Linked DNA regions of Homo sapiens. The protein of the gene in region 2 interacts with the protein of the main gene of each other region in a biochemical or structural test. Each region holds a gene or a part of one and is shown on either strand. Other genes may lie near its edges.

Region 1 (8,091 bases), on a different chromosome or scaffold from region 2:
AAGGACCTAAAGTCAACAGATACCTGAAACTTTCTGTCGCTGACTACAGGGAGTAGGTCCCATCCCCCACAGTATAAAGGTCAGAAGCCAGAAACCAGCTTCTGGGTATAAACATTACAGTTCAGTGCTCTCCTCCTCCACCTCTGAGGGGCAAAAATAAATTTGAGGGTGATGGAAAATCTATTTCATGGACAGAGTAATCACTTCTTTATAGGAGAATCTCAAGATTGGCTCTACCACCAGATGCATAACTGGGTAGTTCTGGTTCCTCATGGCCTCTGGGGTCTTTTATAAAGACTTATAAAATGGGTAGATTTTAAAAGCCAGTAGGTTTAAAGTAGGTTTTTAAAGTCAGTAAGTGGGATGATTCTTTTTTTTTTTTTTTTTTTTTGAGACTGAGTCTCACAGTGTCACCCAGGCTGCAGTGCAGTGGCACGATCTCAGCTCACTGCAACCTCCGCCTCCTGGGTTCAAGCGATTCTCCTGCCTCAGACTCCCGAGTAGCTGGGACTACAGGCGTCCGCCACCATGCCCGGCTAATTTTTTTGTATATTTAGTAGAGACGGGGTTTCACCATGTTGGCCAGGCTGGTCTCAAAGTCCTGACTTTGTGATCTGCCTGCCTTAGCCTCCCAAAGTGCTGGGATTACAGGCATTACCCGCCGCACCTGGCCTATTATTATCCCTTCTTGACAGATGAGGAAACTGAGATTTAGGGGTTAGTTCACACACTCACGGTGATTCGGCTGAGTAGGGCCTGAATTGAACATAGTCAGCCTCTAAAACCTCAATGCTTAACCACTGAGATCTTGTTAAAATGGGATTGAAAGCTGCCTGCCTATAGTTTTCTCTTCTCTTCTCTTCTTTCTTTCTTTCTTTTCTTTCTCTCTCCTTCCTTCCTTTTTTTTTTTTCTTTTGAGACAGGGTTTCACTTTCACTCTGTCACCCAAGCTGGAATGCAGTGGCACGATCACGGCTCACTGCAGCCTCAACCTCCCAGGCTCCAGCAATCCTCCCACTTCAGCCTCCCAAGTAGCTGGGACTATAGGCACGGGCCACCACGTCTGGCTAATTTTTTGTATTTTTTGTAGAGCCAGGGTTTCATCATGTTGCCAAAGTTGGTCTCAAGCTCCTGCATTAAAGTGATCTGCCCGCCTGGGCCTCCCAAAGTGCTGGGATTACAGGCGTGAGCCACCATGCCCGGCCTCACCTGCCTATAGCTCTAGCCCACCTGTCCTACGTCTACACAGGAGCTACCATTTCTTGGGGACTAGATATATCAGTGGCTGTGTGACATATTTTACTGGCATTTTTCCAGTTAATACTAACAACAGTCCTGTGAGGTCAAAGTTTTTGTCCCTATCTTACAGATGAGGAAATCAAGGCAGTGAGATAAAGCAACTTGCCTGAGGTCACCCAGTTGGCAAGCTGGGGCACAGATTTTCAGAGGTTTCTGGGATTCCAAACCCTGTGCTCTCGGGCATTTGTCTGAGAAAACTCTCAGGTAACACACTCTTCCCCTTCCAGTATGTGTATATAGATATATTTTTTTCTTCCCTTTCCAGTTTTGAGGAAATCCCTTGACTAACACCCTCTTTCCTTCAGCTGTTATCTTGTGGTACATGGTGCCAAGTGCCCTCCTCATTCCCATCATCTGCTCCAGAGGGTTTTTTGTCAAAATCCCCAGAAGATACAGAATACAGTGATGATCAAGCTAGCCTTTTCCTCATTGCCACCCCCCACAAAAAATCCTGGTGGCCTTCACTCCCCAAGCCCCAGGGCAATTAATACTGTCTTCTACCATTGCCACAGGCTGACTTGCCCAACTGGTAGGGCTGATTCTATCAGATTCCTTATCCATACTTTGTTGTTGGAGGATTTGTCTCAAGGCACCTGGCAAGACCCACAGGAAATGACACCTGAGATGTCAGTGGCTCTGCCCAGGAGGCCTCAGGCTCACCTGCCAGCTCCCTAAAGACAGGATGCAAAGACACATGGCAACTGTGGGATACCTCTGGGTATCCACCTGGCCCAGAGCCATGAATTAGGCACCCTGAAGAAAATGCTAAACACCACATGACCCTAACCAAGATGCAACTGAGATCAGAGCATCTTCCCAAGCCGGTGTGACTGCTTTTGCCTGGCACCTCCCATGTGGTCAGGCCTGGAGAGATGGGGAGCCTAAGGATAAGGAGCTGAATCCTGGCTCTGCCAACTTCAACACGACCTGGAATAAGTTACTGGGCTTTTTATATTTTTATCTGCCAAAGGCCTCAATTCTTTATATAAAAAACGAGGCCACGAGCAACAATATATGTGATAAGACTGAGTGATCTGCAAAGGCAGGCTAAGACTGACTTCCCAGACACAGCCACTGAGCAACTGGTGACTGTGCGGGGGGGTTCCTGAACCTCTCTGGGGCTCATGGGTTCAGGCTGAGAAAGTGTCTCCATTCAGTGTCGCCCAGAGTTGATCTGAAAAGTAGGCCAGAGTGGGCAGGGAAATTAAGAAAAGCATGAACCTCTGAAAACCTGCCCGGTCCGTGAGGAAATAACCGGGTCCACTCCCTTGTCCAGAGCCTCCCCACCGCCCTCCTTCAGGCCAGCTCCGCGGGCAGGGCAGCCAGGAGGAAGGCTCAGGGACTAGGCGTCTCAGTTCCCGCTGGCCACCAACTCCCCCATCCCCTGCCCCCTCTCTGGTTCTGTTTCTCTGTGTACGCAGGGAAGGTGTGGGCTTGTCGCCCCTGGAGGCCTTCCAGCTCCGACGTTTTGAAGCCTGGCTCCCAGATTAAACTCCCTTCGGATCCCATTTTCTGAAGGGTCGCAAAAGCTGGGGGCTGGGTGGGGTAAGCTAGGGGACAACAGCGGCTCCGGCCGCCGCCTGAGCCCTTCAAGATCAGCATCCGGTCAAGCGGCTGTGCAGCCGAGAAGCAACCCGGGACTGCAAGTCTGCGTGGCGGGGACGGCGCAACCACTCACCGGCATGACTGAGGCAGCGGCGGTGTGGCGGCGGTGTGGCGGCGGTGTCAGCAGCGCCTCTCTGGATTCGGAGGGCGGGTTCGGCTGCGCTTCCGAGAGTGCGCACTAGAGGCCTGGTCCCGGAGGCCCCTCCCACTCCGGGCCCGGCCGCGAGGGAGGCTCCGCCCCCTCCAGTCCTGATCCCTGCCGGCCGCGCCGCCTCCTTTCTGCGGGCCGGGCCCGTGGTCACCCGGCCTGGACGGAGAGAGGAGGTGAGAGGGGCGCTGCGTTGGCCTCCATCGACTGTCGGCCTTTTTCAGAACGCCTACTTCGGGTCAAGCTTGTGTTAGGGAATGCCAGAGAAGGGCACCGCCTTGAACAGGACATCATCCATCCATCCCTAAAAGGACAGTTTCACTCATTTATTCACCGAGTCAATTTTTATTAAGCGCCAGCCAACGAGGACGCAGCGGTGGAAGAGCAGCAGCAGGAGGCTGCGAAGGACGCAGGCAGTGATAGTGCAGGGTTAGCAGAGCTGTTGTGACAGAGGAGGAAGGGCCCTGACTGCAGTGGGGTGGGGGCGGTTGTGGAAGAGAGGCGGCCTGGGGAGAAGGCAATAATCTGGACCTCGGTTAGCCTTTATCGCCCTGTTACAGGCTTTGTCTCTAAATACAGTCGCATTGGGGGTTAGGGTATCAACATAGGAATTTGCGGGGACACAATTCATGTCCATGTCAGAGTTCAGTCCCTAGCAGAGCCATACTGACTAGAGTTTTAATCTCAGCCCTATCATTTATTAGCCATGTGACCCTGGGCAGATGAACTTACCTCTCTAAGCCTCAATATCCTCACGTATAAGATGGGGACAGTTAAGGTCACTATACAATTTTTTATCTGAACCTTTTGCTAGAGAAAGGAGATGCTATTAATAATTTTGCCAGGACAACAGGCAAACACCATGACTGTTTCAGGCAAACAACGACACATGGTTCCCTCCAAGAAACCTACTTTGCAGTATTGTTGGAATACATGTAATGTGTGCAAACTTCTTAATACATTGCTTGGCACATGGTAGGCACCAAAAATATATATAAGTATTCTCTAATTGCTAGGCCCTCTGTTGGCCTCCCTGGCACTGGGTCTTCCGCTGCTCACAAAATACCCCTTAACCATTCATCCCCTACCCAACCTGCCAGGAATTCCCTAAAGATGGAAGGGAAGGGGGCGAGGAGGAGAGGGAAAGAGGGTACTGGCACATTAGGTCCTGTACGGGCAAGGCTTAGCATCTTGGTAGTCCTGGGTACAACTGTGCCCTGGGGCTAGGGATAGCTAGATTGCCATGAGGGAAGGCGGAGAGTGGACATGAGGGAAGGAAATCCTTCCCAAAGCAACAGTACACAGGGCGAACCACCCACGGCATGTTTTAGAGAATTAGGGGTATGGGTTGGGGGGATGGCTAAGCCTAGAGACAGCAATTTAAAGAGAAGACAGCTTTATAAAGATCTGTTAAAGATCACAAATAAAGACCTATTAAAGAGGAGAAGAAAATATGCCAGACTGTAGTTCCTGCATAAATATATACATACATTCCGTGTATTTACATTAAAATAAGCATGAAATGAACCACAGCCAATGTTACTAGAAGTTATCTTGGATAAGTGTAGGATTTGCAGGTGGAATCCCAATGTACCTACTGTTTAATTTTCAAATAACACAAAGTAGCGTACAGTGAAAAGTAGGTCTTCCTCCTACCCTGACCTCTCCTTCTTAAACAAAAGGCATAGTATACACAGTTTTGCATCCTGCTTTTCTCACTTTATAAAATATCTTAGAGATTATTCCTGGGCCAGATGCAGTGGCTCATACCTGTAATCGCATTGCTTTGAGAGGCCTAAGTGGGAGGATCACTTGAGCCCAGGAGTTTGAGACCAGACTAAGAAACATGGTGAAACCCTGGCTCTACAAAAAATACAAAAATTAGCCGGGTGTGGTGGCATATGCCTGTGGTCCCAGCTACTCAGGAGACTGAGGTGGGAGCATCACTTGAGCTCAGGAGGTCAAGGCTGCATTGAGCCATAAGTACACCACTGCACTCCAGCCTGGGTGACAGAATATGACCCTGTATTTAAAAAAAAAAAAAAAAAAAGATTATTCCTTAATAGTACATATCAACCCTTTTCTTTCTTAGCTTTTTTTTTTTTTTTCCCCGAGATGGAGTCTTGCTCTGTCGCCCAGGCTGGAGTGCAGTGACGTGATCTTGGCTCACTGCAACGTCCGCCTCCTGGGTTCAAGCAACTCTCCTGCCTCAGCCTCCCAAGTAGCTGGGATTATAGGCGCCCACCACCATGCCCGGCTAATTTTTGTATTTTTAGTATTTTTAGTAGAGACAGAGTTTCACCATGTTGGCCAGGCTGGTCTCGAATTCCTGACCTCGTGATCTGCCCACTTTGGCCTCCCAAAGTGCTGGGATTACAGGCAATGAGCCATCACTAAGCCAGTGAGCCTGGGAAATGGGCATATAGAATCCCTGCTTTCTGGCTGAAAGTGTTGTTGCAAGGATAGGAATGTGCACACTGTAGGCATGTATAGATGGTGGGTTCTTCCTGGTGTAATCTACTTCTAGACCCAGCCTCCTGGGATGACCCTTTCTTTGACAGATGCTGAGGAGTTTAATTCTTTGCAAAGAAAGGTTTTGTAGCTGCTGCCTGCTCCCCGATATCCCCACCGCAGGAAACCAAGTGTCTGTTTTTTGTATCATAACACAGGTATACACCACTTGCCTCACTGCTTTATCCACCAACGGACCCTTTATCTGGGACCAAAGATTCTGAGCTGAAAGGGCCCTCAGAGCAGCCAAGGCATGCATGAGAAGAGAAGGGCTATGAAGTGGAAGCTGAGGGAGCGTGGACTGCAGGCTTGGGAGAGGGAGCATGGTGTCCTGCAGAGCCACATGCTGGCAGAACTGGGTCTACAGACACATTTTATTCAGTCCCTAAAGTATTCAAAATATTTTTTGATTAGTTGACAACAGTTAAGAACTCTGAGTATGCTTGTACAACATTGTGAATATATTTAATGCCACTGAATTATACACTTAAAAATGGTTAGAAAGAGGAATTTTATGTTCTGTATGTTTTACCACAATTAAAAATAGGGCATGGTGGCTCATGCTTGTAATCCCAACACTTTAGGAGTCCCAGGCAGGAGAATTGCTTCAAGTCCAGCCTGGCAATATAGCGAGATTTTGTCTCTACAAAAAATTTAAAAATTAGTTGGACATGGTGTTGTGCACCTGTAGTCCCAGCTACTTGGGAGGCGGAGGTGGGAAGATCACTTGAGCCCAGGAGGTCAAGGCTGCACTGAGCCGTGATCGTGCCACCACACTCCAGCCTGTGTGACAGAGCAAGACCCTGTCTCAAAATAAAAATAAATAAATAAATTTATTTATTTCTAGACTGACATGTAAAATTAGTTGCTTTCTTATTACAAGACTAGGAAAAGCATTTTTAAAAATAAAAATTCTAAATAGTTTTTAATTTTTATTTTTTGAGACAGGGTCTTGCTGTGTCACCTAGGCTGGAGTGCAGTAGCGTGAACATGGCACACTGCAGCTGTGACCTCCTGGGCTCAAGGGATCCCCTGACCTCAGCCTCCTGAGTAGCTGGGACCACAGGTGCATGTCCCCACACCCAGCTATTTTTTTGTATGTTTTTGTAGAGATGGGGTCTTGGCATGTTGATCAGGTTGCTCTCATAAGCAATCCTCCTGCCTCGGCCTCTCAAAGTGCTGGGATTACAGGCGTGAACCACCGCACCTGGCCTAAATAAGTTTTTAAAAAGGGTGATGGGCGGGTGCAGTGGCTCACGCCTGTAATCCCAGCACTTTGGGAGGCAGAGGCAGGCAGATTACTTGAGGTCAGGAGTTCAAGACCAACCTGGCCAACATGGCGAAACCCCGTCTCTACTAAAAGTACAAAAATTAGCTGGGCATTGTGGTGGGTGCCTGTAGTCCCAGCTACTTGGGAGGCTGAGGCAGGAGAATCGCTTGAACCCCGGAGGTGGAGGTTGCAGTGAGCCGAGATCGCGCCACTGCACTCAAGCCTGGGCAACAGAGCGAAACTCTGTCTCAATAATAATAATGATAATAAAAAGGGTGAAACCTATTCAGTTAAAGTCCTCAGAATATTTCCATTGTATTTTTTAGGCAAGACCAAAAGTTTTCGTACTATCAGTAAATGTTTTAAAAAAAGAACATTGAGTCACATAACCTAGAGTTTTAATATTTCCTGAAAAACTGAAAGATCTGGAAACATGTCTATGACTGACAGGATAGGCCAAGTAATATTGTAGTAACAAACAATCCCAAAGCCTCAATGGCTTAAAATGACGAAGATTTATCTCTCCTGTGATATGCCCATAACTGGCTGAGTGGGTTGAAGCTGGAGGAGTGGCTCTGTGCAAATTGGTTTTGCTCAAGCACCTGGTTTGAGGAAGAGTCACCATATAGAATGGCACTGATCTGAAAGTGTCCCACCAAAATTCGTATGTTGAAACCTAATTGCCAATGTGATAGTATTAAGAAGTGGGGCCTTTGGGAAGTGATTAAGTAATGAGGGAAGAACCCTCATGGAAGGGATTAGAGAATTTATAAAAGATGTTGAAGGGAGTACCGTAAGCCTTTTTTGCCCTTCTGCCATGTGAGGGGACAGTGATCATCTTAGAAGCCATCATAGTCCCCAGCACTCTTTAGTGGACTCCCAACATAGCAGCCAATGGTCAGGGAACATCTGCCATGCTCTCCTCTTCCTCCTTTGTTCTCTGTACCCCTGGGGCTTCAGGTTTCTAAAGATGTGTTTAATGAGACAACCCAGACAAACCTGCGTTCAGTTCCTTGCTGTTTCAGGCATTTAATCTCTCTGACTCTGTCTCTTCTCTTGTAAAATAAAGATAATAATTAGACGTAGCTCATCGTGCTGTGGTGAGCAGTATGAAAAGTTTCTTTTTTTTTTTTTTTTTTTTTTTGAGATGGAGTCTTGCTCTGTTGCTCAGGCTGGAGTGTATTGGCATGATCTTGGCTCACTGCAACTACCATCTCCTGAGTTCAAGTTATTCTCCTGCCTCAGCGTCCTGAGAAGC
Region 2 (7,160 bases):
TGGGAGATAAAATTCAACTTGAGGTTTGGGTGGGGTCACGGCCAAACCATATCACATAGTTTTCACTGCCCACATGAAAACATACAAATTCATCAGAAAAGTAAATTTTGCTTTTTTTAGATACAGGGTCTCACTCTGTCACCCAGGCTGAAGTGCAGTGGTGCAATCATAGCAATCACTGCAGCCCCAAACTCCTTGGCTCAAGCGATCCTCCTGCCTCAGACTCCTGAGAAGCTGGAACTACAGGTGCATGCCACCACACCCAGCTAATTAAAAAAATGTTTTTTGTAGAAATAGGGTTTTGCTATGTTGCCCAGGCTGGTCTCAAACTCTTGGCCTCAAGTAATCCTCCTGCCTTGGCCTTCCAAAGCATTGAGATTACAGGCATGAGCTGCTGCACCTGGCCAGAAGTAAATATTTTATTGATATTTAGTTTTGACATAAAGTTCTCATGTGGGATTTCCTATTGTGAACAAATCCTCATTTGTTCCTATTGTGAACAAATCTCATGTGGGATTTCCTACTGTGTACTTGAAGAGGTATTTGACTCTATTTGAAATCCCACATGAGCACTTTATTTCAAAGCTGAAATAATTGGTCTAAAATAATTTGGTCTTTATATTCTTTATACACCTTTATACTCTTAAAAATTTTACTGAGGATACAATAGAGCTTTTGTTTACATCAGAGTTTCTCATCCTTGACACTACTGACATTTTGGACCAAATAATTATTTGTTGCGGAGGTTGTCCTATGTATTATATTTAGTAGCATCTTTGGTCTTGACCCACTTAGATGCCAGTAGCACCCTCCCAATCAAAATTATCAGTTGGGCATGGTGGCTCATGCCTGTAATCCCAACATTTTGGGAGGCTGAGGTGGGAGGATTGCTTGAGCCCAGGAGTTCAAGGCTGTAGTAAGCTATGATCATGCCACTGCACTCCAGCCTGGGCAACAGAGCAAGACTCTTATCTCTAAAAAAAAAATTAAAAAAAAAAAGCCCTCCAGATATTGCCAAATGCCAAATGTCTTGCGAAGGGCAAAAATCACCCCTGGTTGAGAACCAGTGGTTTACACTGCTTATATCTACCAATATTTAGCATATTAGAAATGAAAACTAAAGAACTTTAAACTTTTTATGAATTCATTTGAAAATAAAAATTCTTTCATAACACATTAACATATTTTTATTAAAAAACTATCTTTTCCAAACCAAAAAAAGAAATTTAGCAAGAAGGGTGCCAATGATTTACACTTTTTGCAAATCTTTTTAATGTCTGGCTTAACGTGAAACCAGATAGTGGCTCCTCCTTTCTGTTTCTGCATTCAATCTAGTGATATGTTGTTTTTGTTGAAGTATATGAAGAAAATTCAGGCTAACTTAGACATGTAGTAGGAAAAGGGAGTATATTTTAATATATATTGATCTTATGTTTAAAATATATTTAACTTTTCAGCTAGTTACAGATATTCTTCTCTGATGCTAGACCACATTTGACAAGTTATGCAGTTTCTTAATGTCAGTTGCAATACAGACTCTGAAACCCTATCAATGACCTTTTCACACTGTTAATTAAAATCCACTATCACTTAGTTTTATCCGCTATCACTTTTGCACTTATCAACATAGTAAAATAGGCAAATATTACATTAATGTTATTATAAAAACAGATTTGTTGAGGATCCATTGAAGGGCCTTGGGACCTGCATGGTCCATGGAGCACAATTTGAGAACCACTGCCTTAAAGGATGAACAGAGTCTGACAAAAGTGGTAAGATTTATCATTTATTTAACATTTGGAATATATGAATTCATAAAAGCAACACTACAGAGGACAGTTTGCTTTCTCAGGACACTCTTTCAAAAGCTTATTTAAAATGCAGCTGACCCATATAATGTAAAGGTTTTTCTGGCAATTCCTTCAAATAATTTAGGTGGGAAAATTCATGTGACAAGCTTTTCAAACTGAACTATTAAACATTTAACTTAAAAGCTGCATAATAACTAAAGTTAAACCTGTCCTTTAAGTCTGGTTAGTGAGTTTATTTAAACATTATAATGTAAAGCACTGAGGAATATTACGTATGACAGGGAAGAACCAAAAGGCTCTGATAACAGACTTTCTCATTCAAAATGTTTAAAGTAATGATTACAGAATTTGAAGTAGAGTGGACAAAAACGAAGAAGAAATGCCTGAACTTTTGAAAGAATTAGGTATATACTGCTATTCAGGAAGCTATGGTGTTAATTATAAATTTTCAGCCTGAACAAAAATATGTAGGTGGTAAAAAAACTAGGTAGGTAGAATATACTAGGCCTTCTGTTTTATTAGTGGAGGGCAAGGCATTTAAAATACAGTAGTACTACAACAACAAAGGTGGAAAAAAGCCTGGGAGTTTTTTCACCAAAATGTTAACAGTGGCTATCTCCGGATGGTAGCATTCCTGGGGTTTTTTCCTTTTACTTATCTATTTTCTAATTTTTCTAGAAGAAACAGCATATACACGTAATACAAATAAAATAATATTTTATGTAACTTCTTACATCATAAAAATTAAAGTAACAGATTATCAAAAAGCAGAGGATTCAACATAAGCTTTATATTTAAGTGACGTGTTAACAATGGCAGTTTTGGTGAGTTTAAGAGTAGAAACTAAGATGAGAAGGAAGATCCGGTTTCTTCTTTACCGAAAAGAGACATGATAGATTGGAAAATGTCTCGTGGCTCAATCGTAAAGAAAAATAAGGAATGAATATGAATAATTTATGACAGACTAACTGGAGTGTGAAAGGGAAAAAAAAAGCTGAAGCAGGGAAGGGAACTCGACCCCTCGGCCAACAGTGAAGCAGAAGAAAACGCGGTAAATTGAGTCTTTAAGACCTAGTCTATTCCAGTCTATATAGAAGACCCCCAAGAAAAAGAAAGACTGCTCATTGGCCTGAGAAATTACCTTAGATTCATGACAAGGAAGGCCATTTGCCCGCAAAATTTAGCTACACTGGACGGGCAAGTACCCCTACAGAAGAGAAAACGTCTGTGAGCCCACACGACCGGCTGCTCACCTCAACAACTTGCACAGGCACCAGCTCCTTTCGCCGGCCGCCATCTTCCGCCGACCCCCGAACTCAGGAAACGCTTCACTTTCCTTTTCCCTATTGGCTCCTGAGAAAGCAAGCCGTGCTCGCCCCGCCCCCACGGGCCAATTGTGCGTTACTATTGGTTACTGGTAGCCGCTTCCCACGGCCTTCCAGCCAATAGAATATGCCGAGGCGTAGACTAGTGTTCGGCGTGGCGCACACGGCTCCCGCCCCCGTGGGCGGGACAGCAGTGGGGGGTTGGGCTGAGGAGGGCGTGGCCTGTGATTGACAGCCGTCGCTCCCTCCCTCGGCCACCTCCCCCACTAGAAGCCCCCGCCTGGGCGCCTGCGCCCCCGTTCCCGGCCCAAAGCCCGCCGCCCGTTGGAGGCCATTGGCTGGCCTTTGCGCACAGCGGATCGATTTTCCAGGTGCGGAGTTCACTCTTGCCGCGGTTGCTTCCTTTGGGACCCACGGCGTCCGGCAGCCAGGCGCAGAGTCCGAGGAGGGGGCAGCGCAGAGCGGACCCGACGCGGCGCCGCCGGGCACCTTCCCCGCAGGCGGTGGGTGAGCCCTGGGAGCTGAGTCTGCGGCCCGGCTCTGCGCAGCTCACCTGCCCTCCCGCTCCCGCACACGCGTGAGATCCCAGTACAGTGTCGGAGCGCACCAGCGCGAGGTGGCCGAGACCGCGGAGGAGGACAGGCCTCCGCCCTGCGGCGCCGGCACGGCAGAGGACATTGTGGCACTGGCACGGCAGAGAACACTGTGGCACCGGCGGGGCCGGCAGTTCCAGGGTGGGCACTCCCAGCCACCTGGGGAGTGGGCGAGGGTCCGAGGCCCACTCTCCCCTCACGCTCTCATCCCCGTGCCCCCAGGTCGGGAGGACGGCGGCGCGCAACTTTGAATCATCCGTGTGAAGAGGGCTGCGGCTTCCCCGGTCCCAAATGAAGGGGCGGTTCCCGGACCCCTGTTTGCTTTAGAGCCGAGCCGCGCCGATGCCCTCACACTCTGCGCCTCCTCTCCCGGGACTTTAACACCCCGCTCTCCTCCACCGACCAGGTGACCTTTTGCTCTGAGCCAGATCAGAGAAGAATTCGGTGTCCGTGCGGGACGATGCCTGAGCAGGAGAGACAGATCACAGCCAGAGAAGGGGCCAGTCGGAAAGTGAGTTTTGTTCCCCCGCGTCCGCGCAGCGTGCTCACTCCCACCAGGAGGATTTTCCTCCCCGCGTTCGGCGCTTACTCGCCCCCAGGGGGTGCGCAGGGAAGGCCGAGCCAGACCCCAGCTCCAGGGATGTCTTGGCGTGGGAGAAAAGGACCCTTTAGAAAAAGTGTGCCGTCAACTGATGTTTGGGAGCAATGGAAAACCCCGCACCTCAAAATTCATCTTTATGCTTTTAAGGGGTCTGATGCTGGAGAGATAAAGTGAGCGTCGAGTTGCTGTGCTAGAGCCCTAATGGCTCAAAACGATGAAGTTAGTTACCTGGAGAAGTTACTCAGAGCCTGGTGCTTGGACCAGATATGGTATATCGAGGTCCTGGAACTTTTATAACTGTTTTAAATTCATTTTAATTGTACAAGTAATACATTAAGACAGTCTTTTAAAAATGGAAACAGCACAGAAATATTTTGCACAAAAAGCAGATCTATTTTTCAGTCTTTTTCTATTCACGTACATATGTCTTCATTCGGCAAATATTTATTGAGAACTTTCTATGTTTCAGGCACACAGTGTTGAGTTGATACAGTGGTTAACAAGACATGTATCTATATGTAATATGCACACATTCAGAGAAATCTTTAGGTTTCATTTGTATGAGGTGTTAAAATTTTTGTTTTACCTAAATGAGATCACTGTATGTGCATTCTCTTTTTTCAGTTTAACGATATATCTTAGAGATTGTTTCACTAACTGTCTAATTCAGTGCAACCTCTGCACAGTTTGGACGCATCATAGTTTATTCATGGTTTCCTAGTGGTGGACGTTCTGTTTGCTACTTTTTTTCTCTCTCTCTTGCAAGTGAACATCTTTGTACATGATTTTTAATGCTGACACTATTTCTTTAGGATAGATACTTAGGCCTGGATTGCTGGACAGAACAGTAGGCTGTTTCTTTTCCACAGATTTCTGAAACTAATTCACTGACGTTGCTGGGTGCCCTTTAGTAGTGAATTCATCTAGGCTCCGGTGATACAGAAATGAAAACTAACGGATTAGTGGACAGACAGAGAGAGGCTGGTTAGTAGGTGGTTTGTAGGGTATGATGACTATGCATTTGATAGGAGTATGAAGAAATGTTGGGAGGGGTGGCTTGTACAGAGGAGATTTCAACTTCCTACAGTGTCCCCACCTAGAGAAAGAAATCATTATCCTTCCAAATCAAGCTCAAGACCTGCCACCTCCTTGAAACGTTCTGTAACTGCTCCTGCCCATGTTGACCTGTCTTCTGGAATCCTCTGATAATAGCGTTGACCAGCGTTATTGAGCTTACTGTGTGCTGGGCATTGTGTTAGGCACTCATATCCCTCTATGTGCACTCTCGCGTTTAATCCTCACAAAAACCCTTTGATGTAGGTATTATATCTTGTTATCAACATTTATTCAACAAATTTTTTTGTGTGTACTATGTGCTCAAACACATAGTACTCAAAGTTTTAGACACTGGGGATTTAGGTAGGACCGAGACCTTGCCCTCATGAATTTACATCCTAGTTGGAGATAGGAAAAAAAAAGGGATAAACAAATGTATAGCGTAGGAGTTAAGGGAAAACTTTTGTGCCCCGTGAAGCGTCACTGAAAAATCAACTGACAAATGGCAGATTAATAGGAGAGAAGGCATACACATTTACTAACGTGCCGTGAGAGTCTTACAACATAAGATCTCAAAGGAAGGCAAGGTGGTTGCCACAATTATACTATCCTGAGGTTACAGAAAGTGTGGGGGCTCTAAGCTTGGCCAAAAACAGGTTATGGTTGTAAATCAGGTTATAGGAGGGAGAGAAGAGGAGACCTGGCTAGCAAAGGTGGTCTTATGTAGATGAAACCTCACAGGTAGCAGCCCTCAGGGAGAAGAAATGTTTCAGACCTTGAAGGTGCCAAATTCAGCTAATCTCACCCAGATCCAGACAAGGAAGGGCCCTCTGAGAAAAACTGGCTGCGTCAATGGAGGTTCTCAACAGATGCTCATCTCCCTCACAGTAGGACTACTTTTGTCTGTAGGCCCTCTGAACGGCCATCTCAAAATATTTCCAATAAGTCTGTTTTGAGGTGAAATGTTTTAGTTTCCTTCAATAGCTTTATTTCAGGTACTAGTAAGTACTATGAAGAAAATAAAGCAGTTTGGGTCCAGGAGTTCAAGACCAGCCTGGCAGCATATCAAGACATCGTTTATACAAAAAAAAAAGAAAAATTAGCTGGGCATAATGGTGTGTGCCTGTCGAACCAGCTACTCGGGAGGCTGAGGCAGGAGGATGGCTTGAGCCCAGGAGTTTGAGGCTACAGTGAGTTGTGATCCCACCACTGCACTTCAGCCTGAGTGATAAAGCAAGATCCTGTCTCAAAAAAAAAGAAAAGAAAAGAAAGCAGAATAAGGGAATAAGATAGGGATTGACATGGGTGGAGAGGAAGATGCTGTTTTAAGTAGGTGGTCAGGGAATGATTTCTCTTGGAAGGTAGGATTTGAGTAGAGACCTGAATGATTCAGATTTCAGAGAAGTAGCCTAGGTTGAGAAACCATAAAGTGTGAGAGTCCTACGGCAGTCATGTGATAAGAAGAAATATATACTTGGTCTTGTCCCAAGTTCCTGACATAGAGCTTCTTAAACCGTTGTAATTTCCTGAGAGATGGTGATAAGAGCATCTTTTGTTATTCATAACAAGTCTCTTTCACCCCTACCTGAGTTTCTGTTAATGAGAGGGCTCTTGATAGGCCCCTAGATAGCTTCAGGATGGAGACTGATTGCCAGAAGAACCAACCATGTGATTAGGGGATTCGAATGTTCAGCCCCGTGCTCCAACCTCTGGAGATTGTGCCAATCACCAGTGGACAATGATCTAATCAGTGATGCCGGCAGAATAGAGCTTT
Region 3 (7,470 bases), on a different chromosome or scaffold from region 2:
AAGTTTGTAAACACCACTAACCAGGTCTCTGTTGGTTGGGGCGGTGATGGTGGTGGTAGTGGTGGGGTGGGGGATGAGGGATGATGGCAATCACTAATCAAAGAAGCTGTCTTATTTGGTTTGCTGAGCCTCAACTAACCGGAATGCATACATCACCTGATTCTTTCCCCCTCTGCTTTTTGGAGGGGGCATCTAAGGACATAATGTAAAAGAATTAAAATTTAAAAACAAAAACAAAATGTCAACATATGCAGGAGTAAATTCCACTCTGCCTAATTTTTTTTTTTTTTTGAAATGAGATCTTGTTCTGTCACCCAGGCTGGAGGGCAGTGGTGCAATCTCAGCTCACTGCAGCCACCACCTCCCAGGTTCAAGCGATTCTCCCGCCTCAGCCCCCTAAGTAGCTGGTATTACAGGCACGTGCCACCACGCCTGGCTAATTTTTGTATTTTTAGTAGAGATAGGGTTTCACCATGTTGGCCAGGCTGGTCTCAAACTCCTGACCTCAAGTGATCCGCCTGCCTCGGCCTCCTAAAGTGCTGGGAGTACAGGCATGAGCCACTGCGCCCAGCCTACTCTGCCCAATTGTTGACATCACCTACAGCTCTATAGTAGATGTCTGGAATGATGATCTGAAGGACTGTAAGACTGTAAGATTTTTTGACTCCAGAAATGGACACAATAGGCTTGCGGTGTCTTCCCCTAACAGTCCCTGGCAGGGTAAAGGTCTGATGCCCTGGTACGTTCCCCAGTGGCAATCTGGAGTTCTCAACTGCAGAGAATACTTTTCCTCTACTCAGGGGCGTCACTACCTGCATCTCTCCCTGAACATGCTTCATTTTCCACTCATCACAAGTTTTTGGGGAAATGCAAAGTGGCATCTTCTCCCCAAAAGGTAGGGATCTTTGATTTTTTTAATCACGATAGAAAAGTTTACTTTGAAATAAAAAAATTAAATATATGTTCCAAATTAAGAGTTGGAACTTAAAGAGTTGCAACATTCCATTCATACTCAGATACTCAAAACACCACTGTATTCTTCTTCCTATCTCTTTAGTTGAAGTTTTTTTTTGTAATTCAAAGCCCCCTCCCCAATTTCTGCCTGAGATTCTGAGGGAGGAGGAAAAGTGTAAGATCCTGGGGGATCTAAGTCTCTTTACCTGGTGACCAAGCTGAGAACCATTTGGTCCTCAGCTTGGCTGGCTGCTGCACAGATCTTGGCCTCAGCAGAGTAAGAGAAGAAGGAAAATTAAAAGCCCTTGCTTCCTTCATCTATTTCACTAGAGGCTACATAATCTAGAAGTTAAGAGCATGAGCTTTGCAGTCAGAATGGTCTGATTTAAAGTTTCAGCTCTGATGTTTAATAGATCTACAGTCTGCAGTAAGGCACTTAATCTCTCTGAACCTCAGTTTTCATGTCCACAGAAATTGGGAAAATAATAGCACCTGCATTAATAGGATTGTTATGTGGATTAAATAAAACAACATAGGTAATGTGTTGAGTTTCGTAGTCAGTGCTCAGAATGAGTTATTATTTTCGCTGTCTCCTTCCTGTATGATCTCTTAGAACTGCTATACCCTCCTGTTCCACTAACTGAGCTCTGAAAGGCTGCCAGTGGTGGGAGGTACATGGGTAAAGAGGGAGATGAGGGAGTAAGATTTAGCAATGGAATTCCATGCAAAGGCCAGCTCATCTATTCCTCTGTCTCTAGCATGATCTCCCCCTAAGATTGAGATCTCCTGTATTTTTAGAACTGATACCCAGGTTTCCCTTAAAAGACGCTTCAAGAAAAAATGTAAAAGAAAAATCACTCTAAATACACGAACATGAGAGAGACAGAAAGAGAGCGGGCATGTGCGCGCGAGAGAGATTGAGTATTCTCTTGTAATTTTCCATCCTGCTTGTTTTTAGGTGCTGCCATATGAAATCTCTGAACTGAGGATTCTCATCAGCCTTCCCAGGACCCAAGGACATAGCTCTGGCTATAAATGGTGCCAGTTTTGGTGGGGGAGCTGCTGCTGCTTTATCTGGGCCCAATAAACCTTATCAAACTGCTGTGCAGCCAGCCTTCAGCGCTAAGTGGAAATGCTTGGAGCCCAATGCTGGCATTCAGCCCACAGCCTCGCCTGCCTTCTTCCTTTTTGTTACCTTCTCCACCTCTTAAATTCAGGCATTAATCTCTCTTTAACACTTACTAACAAGGGCTGGGCTTTTAATGGGCAGCGTTTATGAAGCAAGGGAGATTTTCACATAGAGTGAATATGGCACGGGGGTGGGGAGGCCAGGGCCATAGAGGATTGTGCTTTCTCTCCCATTGTTTCCAGAGATTCTCTCTTTCTCTGATTTGAGGATTAATAGGAGATTAGGATCAGGGGTTAATTGTGTGCTTCTCCTGCTACTGCACTGAGGAGAGGCTGGTAGGTGGATGTGGACAGCAAAGCGGAAACCTCCAGCAGGCACTATCTAGGCAGAAGCTCAACAAGTGTAGTGATTCTTTCTTCTGTTTCCCTGGTGAGGCACCAGGAGGGTCTTTTCTCCTCTCCTTACATCCCTCCACTCTTGCTCTCCTTGCAGCCCAGTTCTTTCCTAACTTTCTTTAAATCCCTTTCCTCTAACAGGGTGTATAGACCTTAGTTAGAAAAACAGGTAGTCTCTAAATGGGATTGCTCTTTATTGTTAATGAAATGAATACCCAGGGACTGGGCTTCCCCTCCGCTTGCCCTGGGTTTGATGTGGTTGTATCCCGTGCTATCAGAGGAGCCCTTCCTTCACTCAAGTGTGTTCCCCTGCCCAGCTCTCTCCGCAGACTCCTGCTGGGCTGAGCTTTCCCTGCTCTTAAGAGTCAGGAGTGGCTCTTGCTGGGATGGAATGACCCGTCTTTGGGGCTGCCTCATGAGCGGCTCTTGTGAACCCGGATCAGTTCCGATGTGTAAACTCTACCGCCTGGCCTTCAGCGAACAGATACAGATTTCTGCCACCTTCCATGACCCTACAGTTCATGGGACTGGGTCTGGGGCAGTGCCAGAGGCACGCATGGAGGTGTGATTCTAGGTGAGTCCTGCGGAAAACCTCTGGCCCACCCGTGAGTCACGGACAGAACATGCAGACTCAGGCCTTGGTGACATAAGCTCCGCATTGCTAAAACCGCGTGACCTCGAGGGCTGACTGGCCTGAGAACCCTGGATGGCGCTCTCGGCCACCCCCACCTCCCACCCCAACCTCCTGGGCTTCGGTCAGAATCCACAGCCCGTGCCCGAAGAGCGCTTCCCGCCTCTGGCACCCTACCTTCGCTCAGCTCCAGGGAAAAGGGGAGAGGGCAGCTTTCTGCAGTCAGAGGAAGAGTACATTTTCTTTGGCTGCTCTACCCTCTGAAGTAGGGCGGCCAGCTGAAGGAGGACACACTTTTGAGGGGCCCAGAGGTTGTCCAAGCTTCCCCCTGCCCCCTGAAGACTGTGCACTGAGCTGGGCGCAGTTCTCGGGAACTGTTTCCACCCAGATTGCTGGGGGGCGGGGGGGTAGGATGAGGGCAGAGCCGAGAGGCTGTCCAAGGTTTGGGAGAGAGAAAAGTTTCTCCCAGGACTCGACCTTGGCCTCCAGCAATCGCGACAGCTAAAAACGGGTGTCTCGCTTCGACAATAGATCCCCGCGGACCTTCTGGCACCTGGTTCACTAGCGCCCGCGAACTCTGCCTCGGGAGACTTATTGAAATCCGGATGCTCAAGCCGGGAGGCGCGCAGTAACCAGGAGGATGAGAGGGCCGGGTTTGGGCTAGGAAAGCGGCCTTTTAAAACAGATGTCAGGGGGACTGCAGCCCCGAGCCATGAGAAAAAAGTTAAAGGCGAGATGACACGCACTGAATTGGGGCAAACATTGGAAGAGGAGACAAAACTGCGTGCTTGAGCACCGGGGTGCGGGGAGGGGGGGACAAAACCCGTATCCAGTGCAAATTAAAATCTTGGGAGTAGGTGGGGGCTGCTGCGCGCCCTTCACCCTCAGTTCCCCTATTAAGGATTCTGAGTCCCCATGCACTCCTGTCCTCTGGCTCCTTCCTTCCTCTCCGCTCGGCCGGTGAGAGGCGGCCGCCGGCGCCCCAGCAGCAGCTAGATGTCAGGCGAAGCCCGGAGCGCGGAGCGCGGGGAAGGGAGGGGAAGGGAGGGGAGGGGAAAGGAGGGGTGGGGCGGGGAGCGCGCGCGGGCTCGGCCAGTGCGGGGTGGTGGGCGGGCTGAGCCCGGGGACGGCGCGGGAGGGGGGAGGGAAGGGGGGCAGCTGTGGGCAGGGAGCCGGGCTCGGCCGCCAGCACTAAAGATGGAGAGGCGCCGGGGCCTTGCAGGGGAGGGGGCTCGGCGTTGACGTGGGACGCGGCGGAGGCGCAGCAGCCGGTGGTGATTTGCTAACCTCGCAGCAGAGAGGAGTTGAGGGCGATGAGAGCGGGTACTGCGAACTGCCGGGCGATGCTGTCGCTGCCGCCGTGATACGGAGAGCAACAGTTCCCCAGCAACACCCCTCCCCGACACAGGCACACACCCCCCGACAGGCACGCACACCCACCCCACAGTGCCCGGCTCGGCTGCGGTGAGTGAGGGGCCGGGAAGAGGCGCACCGCCCAGCGAGCGCCGCGCGCCGGGGCTTCCCGGGGCTGGAGAGGTCTGGGGGGCGCGCGCTCGCTTCGGCCACTCGGCCGCTGGGCTTGTGCCTTTTTTATTTGGCGTGTTCCCTTCCTGCCGCTGCAGCCGTCGCCGCCACCGGTTGGGGGTCGGCTAGAAGGGGGAGCCCCGGCTGTCAGCCTGGGCGCAGCTGCCTCCCCAGCCCTTCCTCTTCAGGGCACGGTCGGGGTGAGAGGTGGGGGGCGTAGCGGTGTGCGGGGGCTGAGGGCGTGAGCAGAGGGGTCGGGGATCCGGAGGCTTTGTACCGCCAGGGGCTGGCGGAGCAACAGAGCCCGTGGGTGCTCTTATGTATGCGGACCGGTGCGCGGGCGCAAGATAAGGTTGTGGTTTATTTATTTGTGTGTTTATTCGCCGGCCGGCTGGGAAGCTAGAATCGGAGGAGCTGACGAGTAGATCTGGGGGCGGAGGGGAGCAGGACTGGGACTGCTTACGTTTTGTTTCTCTTTGAGAAAACGTGGTGGGCTTTTTCTTGATTGGACTTGATCCCCACCCCCCTTTTGCAGGGGAGGGAGGGAAGCTCCAGAGGGTCTGCAGCGCTGCGGGCCCTCCTCGGCTCTCGGCGGGACCGGCGGTGACACCGGAGCTCGCCGTGCGCTCCCGGCCGCTCTCGGTGGGTGCCGGTCTCTGCACCTGATGCGTTCGGGATGCCTTTCCCACCCTGGCGCGCCCGCCGCTAGCTCGCACAGCGCCTCGCACACTCCCGCACGCGCTTGAAATGCGCACGGTCCCGCCGGCCCGCGGAACCACCCGGACGCACGGAGCGCTCCGCACCGACTCGCTCGCCGCCTCCCCGAGACGCTCGCACCGTGCTTGGGCCGGGCGCGCTGGCCGCTGGCGCCGCTGGCCAGAGGCCTGGGACCCAGCCGGTCGCTCCCAGGGGGTCACGGCCCTGGGTCGGAGAGGGAGGGCGGGCAGACCCCTTCTCGCCTTTCCTCCCACAACTCGCTGCGGGGCTTTTGTGCTTCCCCTTCGCCGCGGGGCGGGTCCGCCTCCCCTGCCGCTCTCGCCGCGGAGTCCAGCCCGCCCGGACTGTCGCCGTTCCTCCCCGTCTCTTTCGCTTTCCCTCGTCCCTAGCTCAGCTCTCCTTCTTTCAGGAGTCTAGCTCCTCGGGAAAAGTTGCTTCCCCAAGTTTGCTGAAGTCGTCTCCAAGTCTCGGTGGGGGTCGCTGGGAACTGGGGGGGTGTGAGAGCGCGGTCGATCCCCGGAGCTCGGGCGGGTTATCGCCGGCTCTTCCCCGCGCCGCCTGGCTGGACGCTGCAGCCAGCGCCAGCCGGATCGCGGGCGCCGAGCGGCGGGTGGGGGAGACGGCTGCCCGTGGGCGCCCAGATTTCCCTCAGGACCCAAAAGGCTTGTTTCAGGGCGCCAAGCTTCCATTCTTTTGGCTGTTCCCTCCTAGTTCTCAGAAACCCCGATGTCTGCGGGAAAGCACGCGGTGGCTCGGCTCGGCTGAATGCTCATCCCAACCTTGACGGCCTCCGTCCCCACCCCGGGGCGGGCAGCAAAAATGTCTTGACCAGCCGTCCTGTGAATCCTTTCTGCGTGAGCTTGGTGGCTCCTGAACTGATAGAGCTCCTTCTGGGGGTGGAGGCAAGCAAGCAGTGTTCGAAGAGTGAGGGAGAGACCTTGCTGTTCCTTGCTCTCAGTGCATTCACTGCAATATTGGTCGCTGTAAGACAGACACGGGGAGGGTCCTGGGCCTGCGCGGTCTTTCTAACACTCCTGTAAGCGAGGTTTGGAGTCTAGGAGCCCTCTTATTGATCCCGAACAGGCTCTGGGAGAGGCCTTTGTTTCCCAGCCCTGTCTTCCCTTCGTACTGGTTGTAACTCACACCACAGGTGCTGGTGCCAATATCACTTCCAGCGCCTCTGAGCCATGTCCAGCATCCCTTGCTGCCCCTGGTCACAGGACTTGCAGACTCCTTGGAGCCTGTGGGACACACGTGGAGTTCACACACCCAGCCCAGCATGAGCACTCCTGGCTGTAGGGGACCATATTTAACTATGGTCTCTCTCCATACCTTAATGACCCATCCTTCTTCGTTTTTTAGATCCTCCTGTCCACCGGGCAGTTGTGGGCAGGAGGGTAGGTACGACACCTTACGTAAGTGTGTGTGTGTAAACACACACACACTTTTTTTTTTTTTTCTGAGACGGAGTTTTGCTCCTGTTGCCCAGGCTGGAGTGCAGTGGCACAATCTCGGCTCACGGCAACCTCCGCCTCCCGGTTTCAAGTGATTCTCCTGCCTCAGCCTCCCGAGTAGCTGGGATTACAGGCGGGTGCCACCGCGCCTGGCTAATTTTGTATTTTTTGTAGAGACGGGGCTTCTCCATGTTGGTCAGGCTGGTCTCGAACTCCCGACCTCAGGTGATCCGCCTGCCTGGGCCTCCCAAAGTGCTGGGATTAGAGGCGTGAGCCACCGCGCCCTGCCCCACACACTCTTTCTGTCTGTCTCTGGCTGGTGTACATACACACAGTTCAGATTTTATATTATACATACAATAACTTTGAGGCTTCCGTGGGTAGAAATGACCCAAGTTAGTGTGTGGGTTGTGTGTGTTCCTGTTAGTACCTAGGGATGGGGACAGGCCTTGGGTCTGCCAGTGCTTTGCAGCCCTGAGAACAGTAGAAGGCCAGAGGCCAAGGCTGATGGTGAGAGGATAGCCTTTGCGGAGGAGAGCCCAGTGTCCATAGATTTCTGTGGCCATGGCTACAGGCTCCTGGCCTCCAATGAGTTTGACTCTGCTTCTGGGGCTCCTGTAGTGAGGCAGAGTTTGGAAAAACTGTTTAAAGATAAGGCTTGACATC

The links.
Region 1: the proteins of ATP7B (region 2) and ATOX1 form a complex in vitro, tested with the Homo sapiens proteins (3 studies listed by BioGRID and IntAct).
Region 3: the proteins of ATP7B (region 2) and ZBTB16 form a complex in vitro, tested with the Homo sapiens proteins (one study listed by BioGRID).

Annotation. Positions count from the first base shown.
Region 1 is NC_000005.10:151,755,569-151,763,659, forward strand, and holds the start of ATOX1 (copper transport protein ATOX1), read right to left. Parts: upstream 3,064-8,091; 5' UTR 2,984-3,063; coding exon 2,978-2,983; intron 2,793-2,977; exon of another isoform or gene 2,721-2,792; intron 1,504-2,720; exon of another isoform or gene 1,370-1,503; intron 1-1,369. UniProt on the Homo sapiens protein: Binds and deliver cytosolic copper to the copper ATPase proteins. May be important in cellular antioxidant defense.
Region 2 is NC_000013.11:52,008,367-52,015,526, reverse strand, and holds the start of ATP7B (copper-transporting ATPase 2), read left to right. Parts: upstream 1-4,076; 5' UTR 4,077-4,189; coding exon 4,190-4,240; intron 4,241-7,160. Other genes in the region: ALG11 (GDP-Man:Man(3)GlcNAc(2)-PP-Dol alpha-1,2-mannosyltransferase), read right to left, coding at 3,065-3,108. UniProt on the Homo sapiens protein: Copper ion transmembrane transporter involved in the export of copper out of the cells. It is involved in copper homeostasis in the liver, where it ensures the efflux of copper from hepatocytes into the bile in response to copper overload.
Region 3 is NC_000011.10:114,055,310-114,062,779, forward strand, and holds the start of ZBTB16 (zinc finger and BTB domain-containing protein 16), read left to right. Parts: upstream 1-4,401; 5' UTR 4,402-4,573; exon of another isoform or gene 4,574-4,833; intron 4,834-4,932; exon of another isoform or gene 4,933-4,985; intron 4,986-5,197; exon of another isoform or gene 5,198-5,275; intron 5,276-7,470. UniProt on the Homo sapiens protein: Acts as a transcriptional repressor. Transcriptional repression may be mediated through recruitment of histone deacetylases to target promoters. May play a role in myeloid maturation and in the development and/or maintenance of other differentiated tissues.